2 linked regions of the Homo sapiens genome follow. The protein of the gene in region 1 purifies or fractionates together with the protein of each later gene. This does not show direct contact. Each region holds a gene or a part of one and is shown in the gene's direction. Other genes may lie near its edges.

The links. The genes of interacting proteins can lie anywhere in the genome.
Region 2: the proteins of GPR156 (region 1) and ZMYM1 purify together in Homo sapiens (affinity purification with mass spectrometry; 2 studies listed by BioGRID and IntAct, with this or other methods). This does not show direct contact.

What each region holds. Positions count from the first base shown.
Region 1 is NC_000003.12:120,281,535-120,287,628, reverse strand, and holds the start of GPR156 (probable G-protein coupled receptor 156), read left to right. Parts: upstream 1-2,406; 5' UTR 2,407-2,600; exon of another isoform or gene 2,601-2,745; intron 2,746-6,094. UniProt on the Homo sapiens protein: Orphan G-protein coupled receptor involved in the regulation of hair cell orientation in mechanosensory organs of the inner ear.
Region 2 is NC_000001.11:35,109,973-35,113,371, forward strand, and holds part of ZMYM1 (zinc finger MYM-type protein 1), read left to right. Parts: intron 1-321; coding exon 322-475; intron 476-1,799; coding exon 1,800-1,940; intron 1,941-2,114; coding exon 2,115-2,158; intron 2,159-3,004; coding exon 3,005-3,399.

The sequences.
Region 1 (6,094 bases):
CCCAGGTCGTCTCAGACTCTCCAAACCCTGAAGGCTGGAACAGCTAAAGCTCCTGAACAGCAAAGATGTTGGCCTACCCCTCCCCTGGGAGCTCCTACTTAGGCAGGTGCTATGTTGCTACTGGTAGCTGGGTGGAATTCCAAGCCAGTGGGTCCTGTCTTGTGTGAGGTGTTGTGGAAGTGGGCCCTGCGGGCTGTTGCTGCTCAGCCCTCTGGATTCAGCCTCTTTCTTAGGGGTATGAATGGGAGTCTAAACTCCCTCTTTGTGGGAGATGCAGCTACTTTTGCCAGAACGCCCAAGTATCTAAGCCTCCAGGGTCTCCACGCATGCCTGAGTGGCTGCTTTGCTGAGACTCCATGTAGCCCTGTCTGCCAGACTGAAGACTGAAGGCCCTGCTGCTAGTGGAGTGGATTCACAAGGAGATCTCCTGACAGGAGGGTTGCAAAGATCTGTGGGAGAAGCATGGTTTCCGGGGTCGCTCATTCACTTACCACTTCCCTGGGCAGGGGAAGATCCCCTGGTTCCCTGTTGCTCCCAGGTGGGCTGTTGTCCTGTCTTGCTTTTCCTTGTTCTCTGTGGGTCAGGTTGTTTCCTTGATTAATCCCAATGCGAGTACCCGGATGTTTCAGTTGAAGGTGTTGTATCTACTCGTCCCTTCTGTTCCTCTCCGTGAGAGCCATGTACATTACCTGCTTCTGGTCAGCCATCTTGGCCACTCCCCATCCTTATGAAAGTTTACACTGTATTACAATTGCACAGGAAAGTTACTGCAGGTTTGGGAGTGGGACAGAGGATAGAGGATGTTGGCTTGTTTTGTCAAGAGAGTGACATTCTTAAGTCTATGTTGGTGGTGGGGACAGATAGGAGGCAAGAAAATCAGTTAGGAAATTATTGAAACAATTCAGCCCCAGATAATCGAAGCTTATCAAGAGCAGCAGTGTGAGAATGCAGAGAAGTGGACAGTTGCCAGAAACATCTCAGAGGTAAACATGGCAGGCCTGGAAGATGAAAACCTTCAGTGCCTGGCAACTGAGGGGTTGGAAATACTCCAATCTCAGAAAAGAGAATACTGGGATTGGAGGTGGGGGCCAAGCTGGGAGAAAGATTTCAATGTCTTGCAGAATATAGAGAGGGGTTGATGAGAATAACAGCCGAAGAGCCCAGGGGAATTCCCAGGTTAAAAAAAAAAAGCCCCACAGAGATCAGAAGGGCAAATCCTCAATCTAGAGCCACAGAAGTGAAGATTTGGCTCTAGACTCTGAAGTCAGCTCTCCTACGGAAAAAAGATGGACCCAGGCCTTTTTAACTCAGGCAGCCCCCATGGAGGAGAGAGATGGTCCTCCTCAGTTTCTGCACGTTCCAAATGAAAGGGTCCTTCTGTGTAGAATGAGAGATCTGGAGAGTCCTGGGTAAAATCTCAGACATAATTCTTTCTTCTGAGAAACCAGCTTTTTGCTTACTGCCTTGAGGAAAACCTTGTCTATCTTTCTTTCTTCCTCTTGTTTTCCCCCTCAGTAGAATCCTGTGAAAAGAAGTCTTTGGGTATCACAATGTGTAAAACAGTTAAGAATGTAGCCACTGTCTTGTCACAGTGGGGTCTGCGGACCTGGCCTCTCTCTTCCCGTCCTCTACAACCAAAGATTTCCTCTGCGCAGTTGTAAAAATGTGGAATGTCCTAATGCACATAAATAGGTCTGAGATTTTAAAATAAATGAAACAAATATAATATGGAAAGTCTAAGTGGATTCCCAAGACCATTTCCAGGTCTCCCCTCTATGTTTCTCCTTGAGGGTGTCTTAAACACAACATCTCACACATATTTTTAAGCGGAAGACAGTGGGCTGGGTGCGAACATCTTGTTTGTGGCCTCCTGTAAGCATTCTTGGAAAAAGAAACGTACTTGTCTTTCTGATTATAAAATAAGCAAAAGCTCAACGTAAAGAATTTGGCAACTCCAGAGAGTATAAAATAAGAAAACTAATTGGTAACTCCGACGCCACTCCAGAAATAAAAATGAGCATTCGCGGAGAATCCTTCCAGTCTCCTTACCGAGGCCGGCTAGGGACCTGAATCTGAAGCTCCTCGCCCCGGGGCCAGCTCCTGCGGCAGCCGCTGGCTCGAGGCCCGGGAAGGGGCGCTGAGGGGAAGGCGCCCCCCAGGGAAGGTCTCTGAGGAGACGGCCGGAGGCGGGGCCGCCCCAGGGGACTCGGCGGCGACGCAAGGAGAAAGATCCGAGGAGCTGGAGGAGCCGTGAGGCGCGTGGAGTCTGCAAGGTCCCGGAGCCCTCCCGGCCCTCGCGGGAGAGCAGGGTCGAGGCGCGCCACGCGGGCGGCGCCAGGGAGGGGCGGGCAGGCGTGGCTCAGCCAGTGCCCCGGCCAGAGGCGCCCGGCGCCCCGCGCACACCTCAGAGGCCTGCGCCGCCGTCCCGCCGCCTCCACGCCAGGCTCCCGGCGCGGCGATGGGCGCGGGCCCCTGTCTCTGCCCCGGCCCGCCCCTTCCCGCCCCTTCCAGCCCCGCGAACGCGCGAGACGCCGGGGGACCGTGGGCGTCCTGCACATAGCAGCGGGCTTGGCGCTTCTCGGCGGTCCGACGCTGATGAGGTGAGCACAGCGACCTTAAGGATCCACAAAACTTCAAACACTTAATTATTAAGTGAAAGTGGAAAGGGGGAGGGGCTTTCTCTCCCTTTCCAGAATCTGGGCAGTTTGTTTGGAACCGGTAAAGAAACTCTCATAGGAACTTGAGGTGAGCAGGGGTCACGCATCAGGGATGCGAGTGGCAATTTCAGTGGAAGAGACGGGAGAGTACTGTAATTTGGTGTGAAGATGGGGCCGTGGGTTTTCTGCTGAATAAGCGACCGGCTGTGCTGAAAATGAGAGATCCCGAAACAGTTTCCCACCGCCTGTAGACTTTCCAGAGTCTCCTCACGCCGAATCTGCTTTGCAGGGCATGTTCACCCCCAGGGTGTAGAGTGGCGGGCACGATGGGCTCCCCCATGGAGATTGCAAAGTCCTGAAAAGGGACAATTGTATTGCACTGCGTCTGTTGAACTGCCTTGCTTCTGGGCATGAGGGAGTCACCTGGAAGCTGCAACATCCTTGTACCCTGGCAAGCAGCCCTTTCCAAGTTAGCTCTGTCAGAAACTAGAGGCCTCTAGGTAGAACTCAAGGTATCCATGTACTCGTGAAGAATACAAACCTTGAGGTTTTTAAAATCGAATTTTGTTAAGATTTCAGGATAGAAATCTGGGAAGAGAAGTCATGGCATGGCATAACTTACCCCTTTGTTAGTTTTCTAGGTACATGCATGCTTGAATTAGAGGTAAATGATGCCCTAGCCTATCATAAAATGTCTTTCCTGGTGTAGTTCTTTAAACCAGAATATGGAGGATAACATTACATTTTTGCATCCTAGATAAAAGGGAAAGATTTTCAGATGGGGCTTACACAGCGGGAGAAATTGTTGATATAGTTGTATTAGGCAGCAAGGCCTGCAAAGAAAAACTTCTTTTTCTCCACCAGTGGCTGAATTCTGCACAGAATGTCTCCTCGCAGTCTGGGTAGCAGCCCGGCTTGCAAAAACAGTGCTTCTTTCATTGCTGCAGGTGGGGCAAATGCGCTTGCGGATAAATGGCTGGGGAAGCGTTTGCTTACAGGTTAAGGCAATTTGAGTCTGGAGAATAAAGTGCTTTAGCAGGCTGTGCTTGAGTTAGGTGTCCCTTGTGAGGAATAGAGGTGGCTTTCTGGTCCCCATTTTGCCAGCCTAATTCCCCTTCAGGGACACTACTGTCTCTGGAATGTTCCCTCTGTTTCCCCTTCTCTTCCACCCCCAGCTTTTAGCTTCTCCCCATTCCCCAGTAAAGTCTAGAATTGAGCCTGGTCAGAGTCAAAGTTCTGATAGCCTAGGGATATAGAACTTCAAGCCTGGTGAAGGCAGAAATGAGACCTAGGAGAGACCCAAGATGGGTGAGATGAAACAACTTTCAGCCTAGAAGGCTCTCAAAAGAGTGGAAAAATAATGATTGAGGGAAACAGATTCTCTGGAAAGGAGAATAGGTGCTTAAGTGTTTGTTTTCAGCTGAGGGTTTTAATATTTCCATTTTTGTTGTTTAACCATAAGGGAATTTCCATTATAGGGTAGGAGGAGGATGAGGCCTTCTCTGAAAACTGCATCCTTCTCCTTGAATTTGCATTTTATTCCATTCTTATGTAGGTTTCAGAGATTAATTGGGGGAAGGGGGAGAGAGGAAAGAAGCCAGAGGCTCTGACATGCTGCAGAAACAGTGCAACGTGGACTGACTTGGGCTGCAAAGGTGGATTTGGGGGTTGAAAGAAATGTTCTACATTTAGTTGAAAAAAAAAAATCAGAGCCTTTATTTTGCAAAGGTCTTGAGAATCAGAACATTCATGTTTAGTTGCTGATGAATTTTGCCTGATAAAGGATGCAAATCACTATCTCACCTTTTTTTCTCCAGTACTTTATTATGAAAAATTTTAGACATACAGAGATGTTTTCTACCTCTCATTTTATAAACTTATTATCTTAAAACAAACTTGTTAATAAAAATCAGTGTTTAGAATCCAGACATATGTGATCTGGTCCTGGACAGAGCTTGAATCAGAAGGTGTTTCAAATATAGATGTGTGAAGGATATTAACATTTTAAGAAAAAAATATGGATCTTATTCTTCTGACTTTCCCATAAGAATCTTGAGCAGACCCCTTAACTGCCTTCTTTTTCCCATTCTTAAAATGTCAGTCAGTTGGATGATATTACTCTCCTGCTTAACACCCTCCAATGGCTTCCCCTCACACTGTGAATAACATTCAACTCTCCACCAGGGCTTGTGATTTGGTCTGGTGCCCTCATATTCTATGGCCGTCCTCTTGCTTACCATCGTCCTTGCTCTTCCCTCTGCCTGAACACTCTTCCTTCAGACACTGCCACTGCTTCTTTTCTCAGCTCATTCCAGTTTCTTTTCATACTCTCCAGAATGATGGCCACCTGATCTAAAACAGCCTGTGGTCACTCCCTGTCTTCTGACCCTGCTTTATCCTTCTTCATGGCACTTAGCACTCCCTGACACTATATAGTATATGTGTTTCCTTGTTAATTGGGCATGTTCCCCACTCTAATGTAAACTCCATCAAGACAAGGAATTTTTTTGTCTTATTTATGGCTGTGTTCCTATTTGGTATATTATGAGCAATTAATAAATAACTGTTGGATTAATTAGGTAACTAAATTACACAAATAAGGCATTGACTCCCATAAGGGTGGCAGAACCCTTGGTAAAATACTAGAAGTCCTTTGAGGTAATTCATAATTCAAGTTAATCAATATTTGATAGGTAAATGATGACCCTGGAGATCAGTGGCCTCTTTTATCCTCACAGCACTTCTCAGCTGAATCCTATGCTAATAGCTGGCCAGTTTTGACAAACCCACATCCCAAACAAGACATAAAATATTTCAGTCACAGAACTTTTCCTCACGTCTCTTTCTAGTCACCTCCACCCCACAGAAGCAGCAAACCTTGTTCTGATTTCTAATATCATAGATTAGTGTTGCTGGTTCCTGAATTTCATATAACTGCAGTTACACAGTATGCACTCTTGTGTTTGGCTTCTTTTTGCCCTACACAATGTCTGTGATATTCATCTGTGCCATTGTGTGTATCAGTAGTTCATTTCTTTTTTTTCCAAGGTAGTATTTATTGTATGAATATTGACCATGTGTTTATCTGTTCTCTTGTTGATAGATACTTGGTTGTTGCCAGTTTGTGGCAATTTTGAACAAAGCTGCTGTGAACCTATAAAGGGTCTGCCTCATCTTGAGTCTTCTCTACTTTATATGAAAATCTTCCTTGTGCCACCAATGCAGAGAGAAGTATGGCAAGGTTATGGGGGCTGTGACTGATGTAGCAGCTTGCATGTACCCCAGCCAGTGCTCTCTCTAGACAGCTCTGCTGGGAGCTGACCTGCTTCCCACTTTAGAGGGAAAGCACTTGGAAAATGAGTGTCTAACAAATTAGCGAGCCCTCCAGTGCACTCTTAAGTGCTTTAAATCCTTGAAAGAGACACTGTGGAATGCCT
Region 2 (3,399 bases), on another chromosome or scaffold:
CCTGACCTCAGGTGATCTGCCTGCTTTGGCCTCCCAAAGTGCTGGGATTACATGCATGAGCCACTGCACCTGGCCTTACTGCTTTCATAGGTATTATTATTATTGCTGTTAAATATATCTGATAAATAATAAAAATCATTTTCAGATTTGCCAATATTCTTTTAGTTATTGCAATCTGTAGTGTCTTTTTAAGAAAATGTAAAAACTGTCTTAATTGTTATTCTTTTTAATATTCCAACTAAAAGCAGTGGTAATAGGTTCTTCTTCATTAACAACATATCATATACCAGGAATATGAATATTATTTTAATCTCTAAACAGAAACCTGCCAAACCACTTATATCTGTTCCTTGCAAACCATTGAAGCCCTCAGATGAAATGATTGAGACTACGAGTGATTTGGGGAAGACAGAGCTTTTCTGCTCTATTAATTGTTTCTCTGCATACAGTAAAGCTAAGATGGAATCTTCTTCAGGTAATGTTTGTTTAGCAATTGTAGGGGTTTAGTAATTATTAATAAATAATATTATTTGACTTTAATTTATAACCTTGATTCATTTTCAAATTAAACCGACTTTTAAAAGTCAAAACAATCTAAACTTGTTGCAAAGAACTGTTTTTCAGTATTTTTGTATAAAAGGAAGGCTACTTTACCACCAGAGATTTAATATTTGTAGGCCAAGCACGGTGGCTCATGCCTGTATTCCCAGCACTTTGGGAGGCCAAAGTGGGCAGATCGCCTGAGGTCAGGAGTTTGAGACCAGCCTGGGCAACATGTTGAAACCCCGTCTCTACTAAAAATACAAAAAAAATTAGCTGGGCGTGTTGGTGGGTCCCTGTAGTCCCAGCTACTTAGGAGGCTGAGACAGGAGAATCATTTGAACCTGGGTGGTGGAGGTTGCAGTGAGCCGAGATCGCACCATTGCACTCCAGTCTGGGTGACAGAGTGAGACTCCATCTCAAAAATAATAATAATAAAAATTAAAAGATACATGTCTTTTTTTAGATTATTTAGTAAATGAATATATGTATGTTTACATCAATATATATTGAGCACCTACTGCAAAACATGGTACATAGGAGGCACTTGGTCAATATAGAGTTTAATACATTTACAAGACTGCTTTTATTAGAATATAGAATGTTTTACTTAGCCCTGTTTTGTAAAAACAAGTTTTCATTACATTTTTCACATGAAATAGAAGTGATTGTAAATGCTTTAAGACTCAATAATAAAAAAGCACAAATAATCTGAGCCAACTAAGTATTCCATCAAAAAGCCTCATGTAGGACCAGTGGTGCTATTTACATAGACCATAGAGTGACTAATGCCTCTGGGATTTGTAAGTCATACAAACTGGCTTGTTACAGAAATTTCTGCAATAGTGGCTTGGGCACCAACCTAGCGCTCCATTGATGTTAAGGTTTATGAATCCTGGAAGAGTTTGAAATAGATGCCCATTAGGAGATTCAATCAGAATCTCTTTTCTTCATGAGTAATTTCACAGAAAAATTTGCTCATAATTTTAAACAAATTCTTTAAAAGGACTGGGAAATTGTGTACAAAGGTAAAAGACATAAAATGTTGGAGAAGTGTAAATTTTCAGTGTAATGTTGTAATTATAAATACGATACTAAAGAACCTGGCTATTCCTAAGCCCTAATAAAAATTACTTCAGTACCTACCAATTCCTTAAGCTATTAGATGCTTGCATTATTTCTTTAAACAGTATTACTAAACAGTACTTTCTGATGATTGATTTTGCCTTGTTTATAAGAAATCTTTTTATTGTTGTCAGTAAGTGTTGTTTCTGTGGTGCATGATACTTCAACAGAGCTTCTTTCTCCAAAGAAAGATACGACTCCAGTTATAAGCAATATAGTGTCATTGGCAGACACCGATGTTGCCTTGCCCATCATGAACACTGATGTCTTACAAGGTAAAAGTTGATGTTAAGATATTTGACATAAATATTGTTTTGTCATACTTGATAAATCTGTCTATATGCTAAATTTTCTTTTTGTTTCTTATATGAAATAAGCAAATATAGTTTATGATGCTATTTTATAGGTTATAGTATATAAGATCTTGAATTTATGCTCTATTTTAACAGATACAGTTTCTTCAGTAACAGCAACAGCAGATGTCATTGTGGATGTAAGTTTTAACTTTTTTTACCACTGTCTTTTTTTAATAAGCAGATTTTTGTTGTTGTTGTTGTTGAGACAGAGTCTCGCTCTGCCACCCAAGCTGGAGTGCAGTGGCGTGATCTCAGCTCACTGCAACCTTTGCCTCCTGGGTTCAAGCGATTCTCCTGCCTCAGCCTCCTGAGTAGCTGGGATTACCAGCGCCTGCTACCATGCCCAGTTAATTTTTGTATTTTTAGTAGAGAAGGGGTTTCACCATGTTGGCCAACCTGGTCTCGAACTGCTGGCCTCAGGTGATCCGCCCACCTTGGCCTCCCAAAGTGCTGGGATTACAGGCATGAGCCACCACACCTGGCCCAGATTTTTTATATATATATATAATATATACTATAATATATAAAAATATAAATATATAATATAAATATATTATAATATATTGTATATAATATAAATATATTATAATGTATATTTATTATATATTATATTTATATATTTAATATATATTTTATGTATTATGTATTCATATATGGGGTGTGTGTGTATGTTTGTAGATTGTTTAAACAGAAGTATTTTTTTCCTCTGGGTTCTTCTTTTAAAAAAATACTACACAATTTGAGTCATCTGAGCAATAAAAATTATTTTTATGACAATTACATACCAAAAGGTCCTTCAAACATTTAATGCTGAATCTAGATTGCAAATAAATAAGTTATACGTAATTGTTAACGTTTCCCCCTAGTGGAGCTCATACTGTAACTCAGCCATTTATTTTACTATGTTATTAGAGTAGATATATTTGATATTTTAATTAATTTTTGAAAACTGTTAAATGTTCTTTTCTCATTTTCTCCCAAAGCTTTCTAAGAGTTCACCTAGTGAACCCAGTAATGCTGTTGCTAGTAGTAGTACGGAACAGCCAAGCGTTTCACCATCTTCATCAGTATTCAGTCAGCATGCAATTGGTTCCAGTACAGAAGTACAAAAAGACAATATGAAATCTATGAAAATAAGTGATGAACTATGTCACCCAAAATGTACATCCAAAGTACAAAAAGTTAAAGGTAAATCACGAAGTATTAAAAAATCTTGTTGTGCAGATTTTGAGTGTTTGGAAAACAGTAAAAAAGATGTGGCATTCTGTTATTCATGCCAGTTGTTCTGCCAAAAATATTTTAGCTGTGGAAGAGAGTCATTTGCAACCCACGGAACTTCTAATTGGAAAAAAACCCTGGAAAAATTCAGAAAGCATGA